3 linked regions of the Homo sapiens genome follow. The protein of the gene in region 1 interacts with the protein of each later gene in a biochemical or structural test. Each region holds a gene or a part of one and is shown in the gene's direction. Other genes may lie near its edges. The genes, in order: ERG, USP9X and KDM4A.

The links.
Region 2: of the proteins of ERG (region 1) and USP9X, one has a biochemical effect on the other in vitro, tested with the Homo sapiens proteins (2 studies listed by BioGRID, with this or other methods).
Region 3: the proteins of ERG (region 1) and KDM4A form a complex in vitro, tested with the Homo sapiens proteins (one study listed by IntAct).

Annotation. Positions count from the first base shown.
Region 1 is NC_000021.9:38,491,739-38,495,490, reverse strand, and holds part of ERG (transcriptional regulator ERG), read left to right. Parts: intron 1-3,752. UniProt on the Homo sapiens protein: Transcriptional regulator. May participate in transcriptional regulation through the recruitment of SETDB1 histone methyltransferase and subsequent modification of local chromatin structure.
Region 2 is NC_000023.11:41,228,338-41,232,089, forward strand, and holds part of USP9X (ubiquitin carboxyl-terminal hydrolase 9X), read left to right. Parts: intron 1-915; coding exon 916-1,072; intron 1,073-1,229; coding exon 1,230-1,442; coding exon of another isoform or gene 1,443-1,490; intron 1,491-2,163; coding exon 2,164-2,259; intron 2,260-3,752.
Region 3 is NC_000001.11:43,647,940-43,651,691, forward strand, and holds the start of KDM4A (lysine-specific demethylase 4A), read left to right. Parts: upstream 1-2,209; 5' UTR 2,210-2,313; intron 2,314-3,752. UniProt on the Homo sapiens protein: Histone demethylase that specifically demethylates 'Lys-9' and 'Lys-36' residues of histone H3, thereby playing a central role in histone code. Does not demethylate histone H3 'Lys-4', H3 'Lys-27' nor H4 'Lys-20'.

The DNA of each region.
Region 1 (3,752 bases):
GAGCCAGCAGCCGGCAGCAGCATCAGGGGAAAGCATCTTAAAAATCAGACAGGACATGGAAAGTTACTAACAAGGCTTGGTGGAGACCTGAGGGCACCCTAGTGCTATTTCCATGACTTGCCTAAAGAAGTTACTTTTTTTTGAATTAACAGAGGTTGGAAGGTTTGATGGTAATTGAAACACGACCTGATAGGACTCAATTTTATTAATTTAAAGACATAAAGCTTGCATTATATACGCCACGTCTGCACATTTGCACTTCTTGAACGTTTGCTATCACATGTGAGGGAAACTTAATTAAGACTAAGAGTTATATGAAGAAAGTTAACTCCTCACAGAATTTTGATGGATGTGATTAATGAGTTTAATAGCTACAGATTTATGATTTTTCATCAACCTGTTGGCTAAGTGAAATACGAATTGCGTCAGTCCTTGTTACTTTAGGGGGATTCCGGGAGAATGGAAGGAAGGCCAGGGGCAAAATGCCGCTGCCCTGCTGTGCATAAGTCATTTCAGAGCATGCTCTGAGTGTTTGTCCTTGCCGAAAAGTGGCTTTACAGGCAACTACTTTAAAACAACTTGCTGCTTCCGTTCTTGGTCAGCTCTGTGATCCAGGCTGCCCTCTGTGGACACAGCACAGTTCTCCCTGGCCCTCTGCCTGTGTGTGCATGCACCCATGCATGCCAGGCACCCTGACTCAGTGACCCTGGAAAGCAGGATTGAGAATGGCTCCATCTGTGGGCTTTTCTTCCCCCATGAAATACAGTGCAGGACTGCAATGCTCTCAGACAATGTGCTGAGCCTGAACCATTTCTTAATTATCTACGTTTATAAGTGATTATCTCATAAAGTTTTTGTTTTGCAAAACAGATCTTTATTTAAACACAAACACAGGTTAACAACTCTTGAAAAAGCATACATAAAAATAAGTAAATGAAACAACCATTTCTGTTGTCTTCAGGAAAATATGACTGATACATTTAGAACTTTAGAATAAGATTCCCTCTGTGGGAGTGGAGACCCAAAGCCATTATAGGCATCCCAACAATTTGGCGGATTTATTGGTTTAACAGCTGATACATAAGAGAATCACAGAGTAAGGGCCATGGGGAAGCCAGACGGATGAGAGTTTCTCTGAAATGAGAAACCTCAGAGAAGAGACAGGGACAGTCTCCAGGCTGTTCCAGCGTTTGGTAGCACACTGTGCTCTGGCGGGGTCTTTTCTTTGGAGCTACCTCAAGGAGAGCCTTCTTGTCCCCTCCTTTGACCCCACAGGATAGAGGACAACTGCTCCCTGGCCTGGGGATTCTGTCAGACCACCCCTGATAGCGCTTCTCTCACCTTACGTGGCCGCAGACACACTTGCATTTGCTTCCTTCCTGTTGTGACCCTGGGCAAGGTAGCTAGCCTGTCTGATCTCAGTTTCGTCACCTGTAAAATGGGATCATAATGGCTACCCTGTCTCGCACCCATCCTCAATAAATGGCAGATGCCATCAGACGCCCCCCCGCGGATGTAACCTTTTCTACCGTATTGTCTTTCAGGCTCTGCACTCACTCGTCTCAACATTTCCCACGGCCCAGCTTCAGCTGTGAAGCCCACAGCCATAGACTGCTCTGATGTGCGGCCTCCCACACCCAGGCAGGGTACATCTGGGTCTGGGCAGCCACAGGACAGGGAAGGAAGGAGGAGGGAGCTTGCAGGGGTGCTTGTTAAAGGTGTAGCAGGGCAGGTACCACACACAGGGGCAGGTGGAGCGTCCAGGGGTCGCCCGAGGTGGTGCTGGTCAGAGAGGGTTGGCTTCGTCCTGTTCTGAGCCGAGGCTGCTGGAGGAGGGCAGAGGCCTATGACTGCATCGTGCTCCTGGTTAGGGCAGGAACAGCACCCTGGAATACCCCACTCTCCTCTTTACTCCTGAATTACAAAAAATACATCTTGTTCTTTAGCATAAATTATAAACATAAAAAATTCTTATGGTAGAGAAAACGTTTAAAAGTCATCACAAAGTCAATATAAATTGTTCAGATCCTAACCAACCACAGCAAATTCCTAACAATTGGGATATGTCTCTCCACCGTGTGTATCTGTTTGGCCTTGTATCTACCTACCTGTCCTGCTCTTCTCAGTTAGCATTGTTTTACAAGCATTTTCCCATGTTACTAACATTTTTTGATAAGCAAAATTTTTGTTTCATTATATTCTATCTAAAATATGTATTACCATTTTATAACCAATATCCTAGTGTATAAAGTGATGCTGCTTGCGATGTTTCACTCATTATATTGCAGTACACCATCTATTTAATTTTTTGAATACTTTTTATTAGTATTGGTGCCTAGAAAGGAATTATTGAGCCAATGGGTATATATATTTTTTAAGTCTTTGCCAAATTTAAATATTTGCCAATTTAAAAAATAATTACCAGATTATTCTCTGGAAGGATTATACCAGTTCTCCCTTTTTCTAGCCACATATGAGACCAGTTCCACACTACACCCATAACAACTCTGAATATTTTACTCTTTGAATCTTTGCCATTCTGACAGATAAGAACAGAATCTCATTTTTATTTGTACTTCTTTAATTTTAGTATTTCATTACATTTTTTTGTTTGTTTGCTGTGAACCCATTTTGGCTAGTGGTCCACTGTGACCTCTGGATTTTTTTTCTTATTTATACTTTTATTCTCTGTTTGGTCTAGCTTACTTTCCACATATTTCCCCTACTGAGCTTGGCCAAGACATGTTTTATAAAATTTCACATCGATTCCCATCTGTCCACTCTCCCACTCTTCATTTTCTTTCCTGTCAGCACATTCTCCCAGCTTTGCTTGTGTTTGTTGTTGAGTGTGAATAATTTATGTATACCCACTGATATCGCAGAAGCTGTTTTTAGTGATATCTTATCCATTTCTTCTGTGTCCTCAACAGTGACTGGCAAAGAGTAGAGGTTCAATAAGCACTTGTTGAAAACATAAACTTAAATTTTAATTATTTGAAATCATAAAGAGGAAGTTAAGATATCAGAGTAATGTAATTATCATTGTAGACTTCAAATAGAATTCTTATGTTTTTAGAGACATTTCTCCTAGTAAAATAACGTTAATTAAAATTGACTTAAATTGATGTTTAAGAAAGTATAAAAAATGTAGCTGTAGTATCTTGAATTCATAATCCAAACTAACATCATCCTAATAACTGCTTGTTATGTGCCAAGTCCTGTGCTAAACTCTCATAATGTCTCATGTGATCCTCACAGCAGCCTGGGTACTGCTGCTTTCTTACAGATAAGGACAAAGGATTAGAGAGGCGAAGTATCTTATACAAGTCACACAAATCTGTCTCCCTTCTCTTTATCATCTGATCTCTTTTTTCCTGCTATTCACCCTAGCTGTACATAGTGAATTACTGTGCAGAGAAACATGATGTATTAAGTGTTATGGAGACACATGAAATAATTGGATAATGAAAATTATTATCGCTGGTTACTTTATGTTATCTACTCTTCTGGGAAAAATCCCATAGGCAGCAATTCTTATACTCTAGGTGGCTAATCAAAACAAAGTTCTAGAAAATTCAAGAGGTAAAACTCTAGCACTGAATTCTATATTTGCTCAGTGACAAGAATTCTTTCCATATTTGGCGAGATCCAAGGGGCAGTGCTTCCAGATTCCAGATCAGCTGCTGATTTAAATTTCCTCATCCCAAGTATCAACTTCCTTGCACTCGTCTTGGGCGTCAATAATGAACACG
Region 2 (3,752 bases), on another chromosome or scaffold:
TTTAAGTTAGTTAGTTCAGGGAAAGACAGGACTAGTTGGCTTTGTATTATTACTCTGTTGTAGTTTGGGAGAAACTGAAATGAAATCCTGTGTTATTGGCAAATCAGCCAAATTGTACTATTGCCTGTCAAAATGCTTTGCCTGCCATGTATTCTCATTATTAGAATTCAAATACTGTACCTCCAAATTATGTCACTGAATCCTAACTTGCCTTCAGAGATGCAGTTTTATAAAAGGTATTGATGTGTAGCAAATTACCCTCAACTACAGCAGTCATAAACTTAGTTATAACTTTTTTAAAGTTTGCATTACTCTCGAGTGTCCTGAATTCACTTCAGGTAATGTGTTTAAATTACATATATGGCAGAATTATTTTGGACTGGTAATAAGTTAGTAAGAGCACAGACTCTGGAGTCACACTGCTCCGCAGCTATATGACCTCGGCAAGCTGTGTAACTCTGTGCCAATTTTCTCACCTGTTAAAAGTTTTAATAATAAGGCCAGGCGCAGTGGCTCATGCCTGTAATCCCAGCACTTTGGGAGGCCGAGGCAGGCGGATCACGAGGTCAGGAGATTGAGACCATCCTGGCTAACACGGTGAAACCCCGTCTCTACTAAAAATACAAAAAATTAGCTGGGCGTGGTGGCACGTGCCTGTAGTTGGGCTGAGGCAGGAGAGAGGCGTGAACCTGGGAGGCAGGACTTGAAGTAAGCCGAGATGGCGCCACTGCACTCCAGCCCAGGCCGTCTCAAAAAAAATAAATAAATAAAAAATAAAGGTTTAATAATAGTACCTATTGTCTAATGTTAGATTAAATGACTAAAAGACATTATTGAGTGGCACATAGTAGGCACTCAGTATATATTAGCTATTAGATTTTAGATGTTTTTATTTTATATCTGGTTCTCTTTCAGAATTCATAATGCACTGAAAGGAATTCCAGATGACCGAGATGGGCTGTTTGACACAATCCAGCGCTCTAAGAATCACTATCAAAAAAGAGCATACCAGTGTATAAAATGTATGGTAGCTCTATTTAGTAACTGTCCTGTTGCTTACCAAATCCTGCAGGTGAGGATTTTTTTCTTATAATTTTGTAGAAATCTTAATCAGAATTAAGGATTCTGTTTTAAAAGAAGAGAATCATGAGAACTTGGGGTTGTCATTTTAAGTTAACTTTGAAGTATTCCAAATCCTCTTATCTATATGGTTTTATTTTCTTTTGCAGGGCAATGGAGATCTTAAAAGAAAGTGGACCTGGGCAGTGGAATGGCTTGGAGATGAACTTGAAAGAAGACCATATACTGGCAATCCTCAGTACACTTACAACAATTGGTCTCCCCCAGTGCAAAGCAATGAAACGTCCAATGGTTATTTCTTGGAGAGATCACATAGTGCTAGGATGACACTTGCAAAAGCTTGTGAACTCTGTCCAGAGGAGGTAAAAAAAGCCACCAGTGTGCAGCAGATAGAAATGGAAGAGAGCAAAGTAATTCTTTATTTTATAGGCCAGTGTTTATGTATTAATGATATTATTAAAAGATTATGTTGAAGTTTTGGGTTTTGAAAAATGTTTATTCGGCTGGGCATGGTGGCTCACGCCTGTAATCCCAACACTTTGGGAGGCCGAGGCAGGCGGATCACCTGAGGTCAGGAGTTCAAGACCAGCCTGGCCAACAAGGTGAAATCCCATCTCCACTAAAAATAGAAAAATTAGTCGGGCGTGGTGGCAGGCGCCTGTAATCTCAGCTACTTGGGAGGCTGAGGCTGGAGAATGACTTGAACCCAGGAGGCACAGATTGCAGTGAGCGGAGATCGTGCCAGTGGGCTCCAGCTTGGGTGACAAGAGTGAAACTCCATCTCAAAAAAAGAAAAGAAAAGAATGTTTATTCTATGTCATTTTAAGCTAATGAAGGGAGCTTTCTTTTGGAGAAATTTCTGTGAAATTGCCTGAAATGTAGTAGTTCTGAGAGAATGCAAATCAGGTTTTTTGTTTTGTTTTTTTTTTTTTTGTTTTTTCCCCAAGTTCTTTATCTGCAGTAAAAGAAAAGTTGCTAATGGGTCAGTTTTGTAGATTTTTAAAATTTATTTCAAATAGAAAAAGTTAAAAGTAAACTTGAGTTTGCCTACGTAATTTTTTATCTTGAAATATTCAAAATTAGGAGCCAGATGACCAAGATGCTCCAGATGAACATGAGTCGCCTCCACCTGAAGATGCCCCATTGTACCCCCATTCACCTGGATCTCAGTATCAACAGGTAAACAGGAGTCAGTTTATGCTTTTATCCCCTAGAACTGGGTTTTATGCTTAATTTTAGAGGATGGCTCAATTGTTTGTTGTGACTACAAAGTAAGAAGTAGGATTATCTAGACTAGCTTTGGGAGCATGATCCAGAAGAGGGATGGTTTGGAGTGGGGGTCATGGTGTAACATGTTTGAACTTAACCACTGTAGGGTTTTCCTTGTCAAGAAGGTGTCCTTCTTGTGCTAGTAGTTAATAAAACTGTATGAGAATTTATATCAACATAAAATGATCATTGTTTAGTGCAAAGGATTGTGGTGACATTTCCGGTGAGGTAAAATCTTCACCTGGATTCCAAAAACATTATTAAGATATGGCAATGAAGTAAGAAGTCCTTGGTTACTTAGCCACAGGTTTCAGTGATGGTAAAAATCACTGGAAAAAAAAGGATTTGGGTAGATTTCCATAGGTGATTAAAGTAAATAAACTAGTAAATAGCAAAAGAAATGAGATGAAGAAACATTCTAAATGATAACTTTTTCTTTCTGAAACCAAAATGTGACTAAATCAGCTCTTGTGAGGCAGTGGTACTCAAACTTGCACAGGCGTGAGTCTCCCTGGAAGGGTTGCTCCAGCAGAGAGCTAGATGCTACCCTAAAGTGTCTTATTTCATAGGTCTTCAAGGGGCTGGAAAATGTACATTTCTAGCAAGTTCCCAAGTGATGCTGCTGGTGGTCCAGGAACCATACTTGGAGAAACATTTCAGGCATTCTTTCTTACATTTCACTGTGTACATAGAAGCAAACTGAATAGTTAGGAAGTACACATTCAGCGTACTTATTTTCATCTATAGAAAGTAAAGCCTGGCCAGGCGCGGTAGCTCATGCCTGTAATCCCAACACTTTGGAAGGCTGAGGCAGGTGGATCACCTGAGGTCAGGAGTTTGAGACCAGCCTGACCAACATGGAGAAGCCCTGTCTCTACTAAAAATACAAAATTAGCCGGGTATGGTGGTGGCGCATGCCTGTAATCCCAGCTACTCAGGAGGCTGAGGCAAGAGAATCTCTTGAACCCAGGAGGCAGAGGTGGTGGTGAGTCGAGATAGCACCATTGCACTCCAGCCTGGGCAACAAGAGCGAAACTCCCATCTCAAAAAAAAAAAAAAAAAAGTTAAGCCTAAAATCTTGGCTTGGCTGATGGAGCATGTACAGAAAAATGAGAGCACTGTAGGGTTCAGACATTTTAAAAGGTTAAGGAACCAAATCCACAAGGAAGGTTAACTTCCTTTGACCCTGAGAAAGCTCTTATGTTAATCATGCCTGGTTACTTTATCATCTTGAACATTGTTCTGTTTTTAATCAGCATTATTGTGAGTTCAGGGTTACTGCTCCTATATATCTTACATCATGGTTAGTCAATCGGATTTAGCATGTGGAAGAGTCAATAGATGCTCATAGATCATTCTCTGAAAATTTTTTACCAAGAGCAACAGTGGGTTAATCCTTTATT
Region 3 (3,752 bases), on another chromosome or scaffold:
CTTTGGGAGGCCAAGGCGGGTGGATCACTTGAGGTCAGGAGTTTGAGACCAGCCTGGCCAACATGATGAAACCCTGTCTCTACTAAAAATACAAAAAAAATTAGCCGGGTGTGGTGGCGGGCGCCTGTAATCCCAGCTACTCAGGAGGCTGAGGCAGGAGAATCATTTGAACCTGGGAGGCGGAGGTGGCAGTGAGCCGAGATCGTGCCTGGGCAACAAGAACGAAACTCCGTCTCAAAAACAAAAAAACAAAAAAGCAAGCAAACAAACAAAAAGTGTGCAAAGGGAAAGGTGAGCTTAAAAAGGAAACAGGAAAACTGGTCAGAAAAATGGGAGCATATCACGAGAACTTGATTTAGGCTCCACCTATCACATGCACATACCAATTGGAAGCTAGTGATACACAGTAGAGGGCCCTTGGAAATCATCTGGCAGCACCAGGAAATACAGCAAAATCCAGTTTATGGAACACAGTAACAGTAACTAGCGACTGTATCCATGTCCAGGACAGTGGAGTCTGTGAAGCAACCTGCAGTATCTTGTGCTTAGTGGCAGCAGGAAAGACAGTGGTGGATGAATTCTACCGCAGGATTTGGGTTTTCTTTATGTGTCCTGCAAGTTGGATTCTTCAGACTCGGCACTTTTGTGAGCCACTCAGTATAATCTATTATCTAATACTGTCGATTACCTTACTGGGTAAGGGCAAAAACCCCTATTGTGAAAGACTTGTGGCTGCGTAGCCAACGGCCATTCTTTTTGAAACAGTCATTTCTGTTTTTGAAACTATTTTTTTTAAAGATTTTTTTTTCAGTAGGCATGTACCCAGCCTGAGGCATAAATCATGATTGGTCCATAGCATTCTATGAAATATGTTCTTTTTGCCAACATTCATTAACTCTCATCTTTACAAAATTTGCAAGGCATTATTTTTTCCATTTTATTGATGTGAACTCCCAGGCTCAGAGAAGTTACTAGTTTTGAACACAGGCCTGACTCCATATAGCTCTTTCCAGGGCACTACCCCATTATTCATCCATGGTAATTCTGTATATTTTTTTATGACTCTGGTTGTGGGTATTTTACTTTCCTACTTGACCTTCCCCACTACCCTTGACAATCTGGGAATTCCTTAAGGCGACTCACTACCCCTCAGGAACCGCTCCTAATGACTTCTAGGAAGCCCCCTCGCCCTCCAGAAGTGCCTCTTCTGATTCCCAGGATGCCCCCCTCTCCGCCCCAAGAGCTGCTCCTAATGATCCCCCAAATCCCCGCTCACTGAGGAACTGCTTTTTTTTTTTTTTTTTTTTTTTTAGACGGAGTTTCACTCTTGTTGCCCAGGTTGGAGTGCAATGGCGCGATCTCGGCCCACCGCAACCTCCGCCTCCCGGGTTCAAGCGATTCTCCTGCCTCAACCTCCGGAGTAGCTGGGACTACAGGCATGCAACACCACGCCCGGCTAATTTTGTATTTTTTTTTTGAGTAGAGACGGGGTTTCTCCATGTTGGTCAGGCGGTCTCAAACTGCCGACTTCAGGTGACCCGCCCGCCTCGGCCTCCCAAAGTGCTGGGATTACAGGCGTGAGGGACCACGCCCGGCCAGGAATTGCTTTTTAATGACCCTAAGGAGAGCCTCCCTCATGGTCTGTCCTAATGACCCTCAGGGCAGCTTCCCTTCCCTGTTCAGGCTTGACAGCGAATGAGGGGTTTCCAAGGCCACGGGATTTTGTTTTGAAAACCGAGACACCCAGGACAAACCGGGACAAGACGGTCATCTTTTCAGCACTCCCTGAGCTCGGAAGCTGCCCCTAAGGGCCCCGACACATTTCCACGTTAGGCAAAGAGGATACTCATCCCAAGAAAACTTTGGCCTATCCTTTCGTTAGCGACATCCTATAGTAACCTCACCGCCCTTACCCATCTACCGGACCGGCCCACTTCCAGGTACTAGCTTCTTTCAACCCTGATTAGTTATGGGTGACCAGGAGCCCGCCTATGATTGGCCAGCTTCGCGATCCAGCTAGAGGCTCACTGGCCGCGGTCCCTAGTGGTACAGCGTTTCCTCCCGGCAACAGCCCGAGCCGGCGCTCATAGGCTGAGCACACTGAGGTCGGGACTGGGAGGTGGCTGCGGCGCGTGCTCATTGGCTGGTGTATGGCTTGCAGCCACCCTTGAATTGGTTGACTCTGTACGGCTGCGCAGATGCCGACTTTAGAGGAGGCGGAGTTTCGGCCTTCGCCTGCTGGAAAAGCAGTAGGATCGGCCAGTGGCGACAGCAGGAGCTGAGCCTAAGCCCTGGCGGGGCTTTGGGCTGTAGGTGAGAACTATAGGGTTTTGGAATTCTCGAGGATCATTGCCGCTGTAGCAGTGACCGTGAGTTTTGGTGGGGGAGGGGCGGTGGGGGTGGGTCTTCCAGCGGTGAGTGATCGGCATGTTTCTCGGCCAATAGGAGAAGGAGCTTCCAGAATGGGTTCTGAGATTGGTCCTTTCCAATCTTCAAGGCCAATGGACCTCGGGAGAGGGGGGCGGGTCATCTGGGCCTTATTTTCTTCTTCCTGCGGCCGAGCTTCACTCGCCAAGGCGGCGGGGCCGGGAGGGGCCGAACCTGTGCGCGGTGAGGTTCGGGGACGGTGGGGAGCAGGGTGCGCTGCCTTTGGAGTGATGCTCGCGGGAGCGGCTGCGAGGGAAGGGTGCGGGAGTCCGAGGGGGTTGTTAGCAACAGCTAGCTTTATTGAGTGGGTAAGTACCGGGCCTAGTGCTTAGTGCTTCGCTTGCATCATCTGAGCTAATCACAGCGACCCTGCAGGGCAGGGGGTTGGGATCCCCATTTTACAGGTGGAGAAACTGAGACTCAAGTCAGCTCACACAGCCAAGGTCACATAGCTAATAAACGGCAGAGACCGGATCTGTATTCAGAGTTTTGACTTCGGAGCCGGTGTTCTTGAATCTCTAGGCTTTGTTACTGATTGGGAGGGAAGGTGTCATGAAACGGGAGCTTTCCCCAGGGAACAGATTTGGGGGAAGGGAATCCTAGGGTTGAAGAAGGGATGAACAATTGAGGTGAGGGTGAGGAAATCAGTTTTTCAACAGTTACCGATTGCCTACTCTGTGCCATGCATTGTTCTAGGCATACAAAGATGAATAGGGGCAGAGGCTGATGAAGCCCATTAGGGCCCCTTTGAAGGCCCGGGGAAGGGCCCCAACATTGTATTCACATGATTGTATGTTTTTATAAAATGTGCAAAAGTAAGATATTTTGGATTCATTTTTCTTTTTAAGAGGGTCTTCAAAATTAAATAAACTTCGGGTTTCTCCACACTTGGAGCTGCCCTTGCAGAGGACTTAGTCCAGGTGGAGATGAGTATGTAAGCAGTATAGAGCAGTGGAAGGTGCACTTAAGAGTGGGCTGTGGGCAAATTTCCTGGTATGTAAAACAGGGAGAACAGTATACCTGCCATGCAAAGTTTCTGCCAGGTTCATGAAAAGCGCCTGTTTAGAAACACGCCTTATTTTTGATAGGAAGCCTAGGAGATACGGGTAACTGGATTTGCCTTCTCTCCTACCTTACACAGTTGTGCTCCGTGTTCTGCTCCCAGGCCTGTAACTAGATTTCTGGTGGATTGGAGGCGCTTTTCTCCTTTCTGAGCTCTCCAACTCTCAAAGAGAGTCTTGGAGCTGAACCGCCATACCTTTGGGCCCCAGATAGGGGGTACGGAACTGCTGGACCCTCAGTGAGGAGGGTGGGTAAAGGAAAGG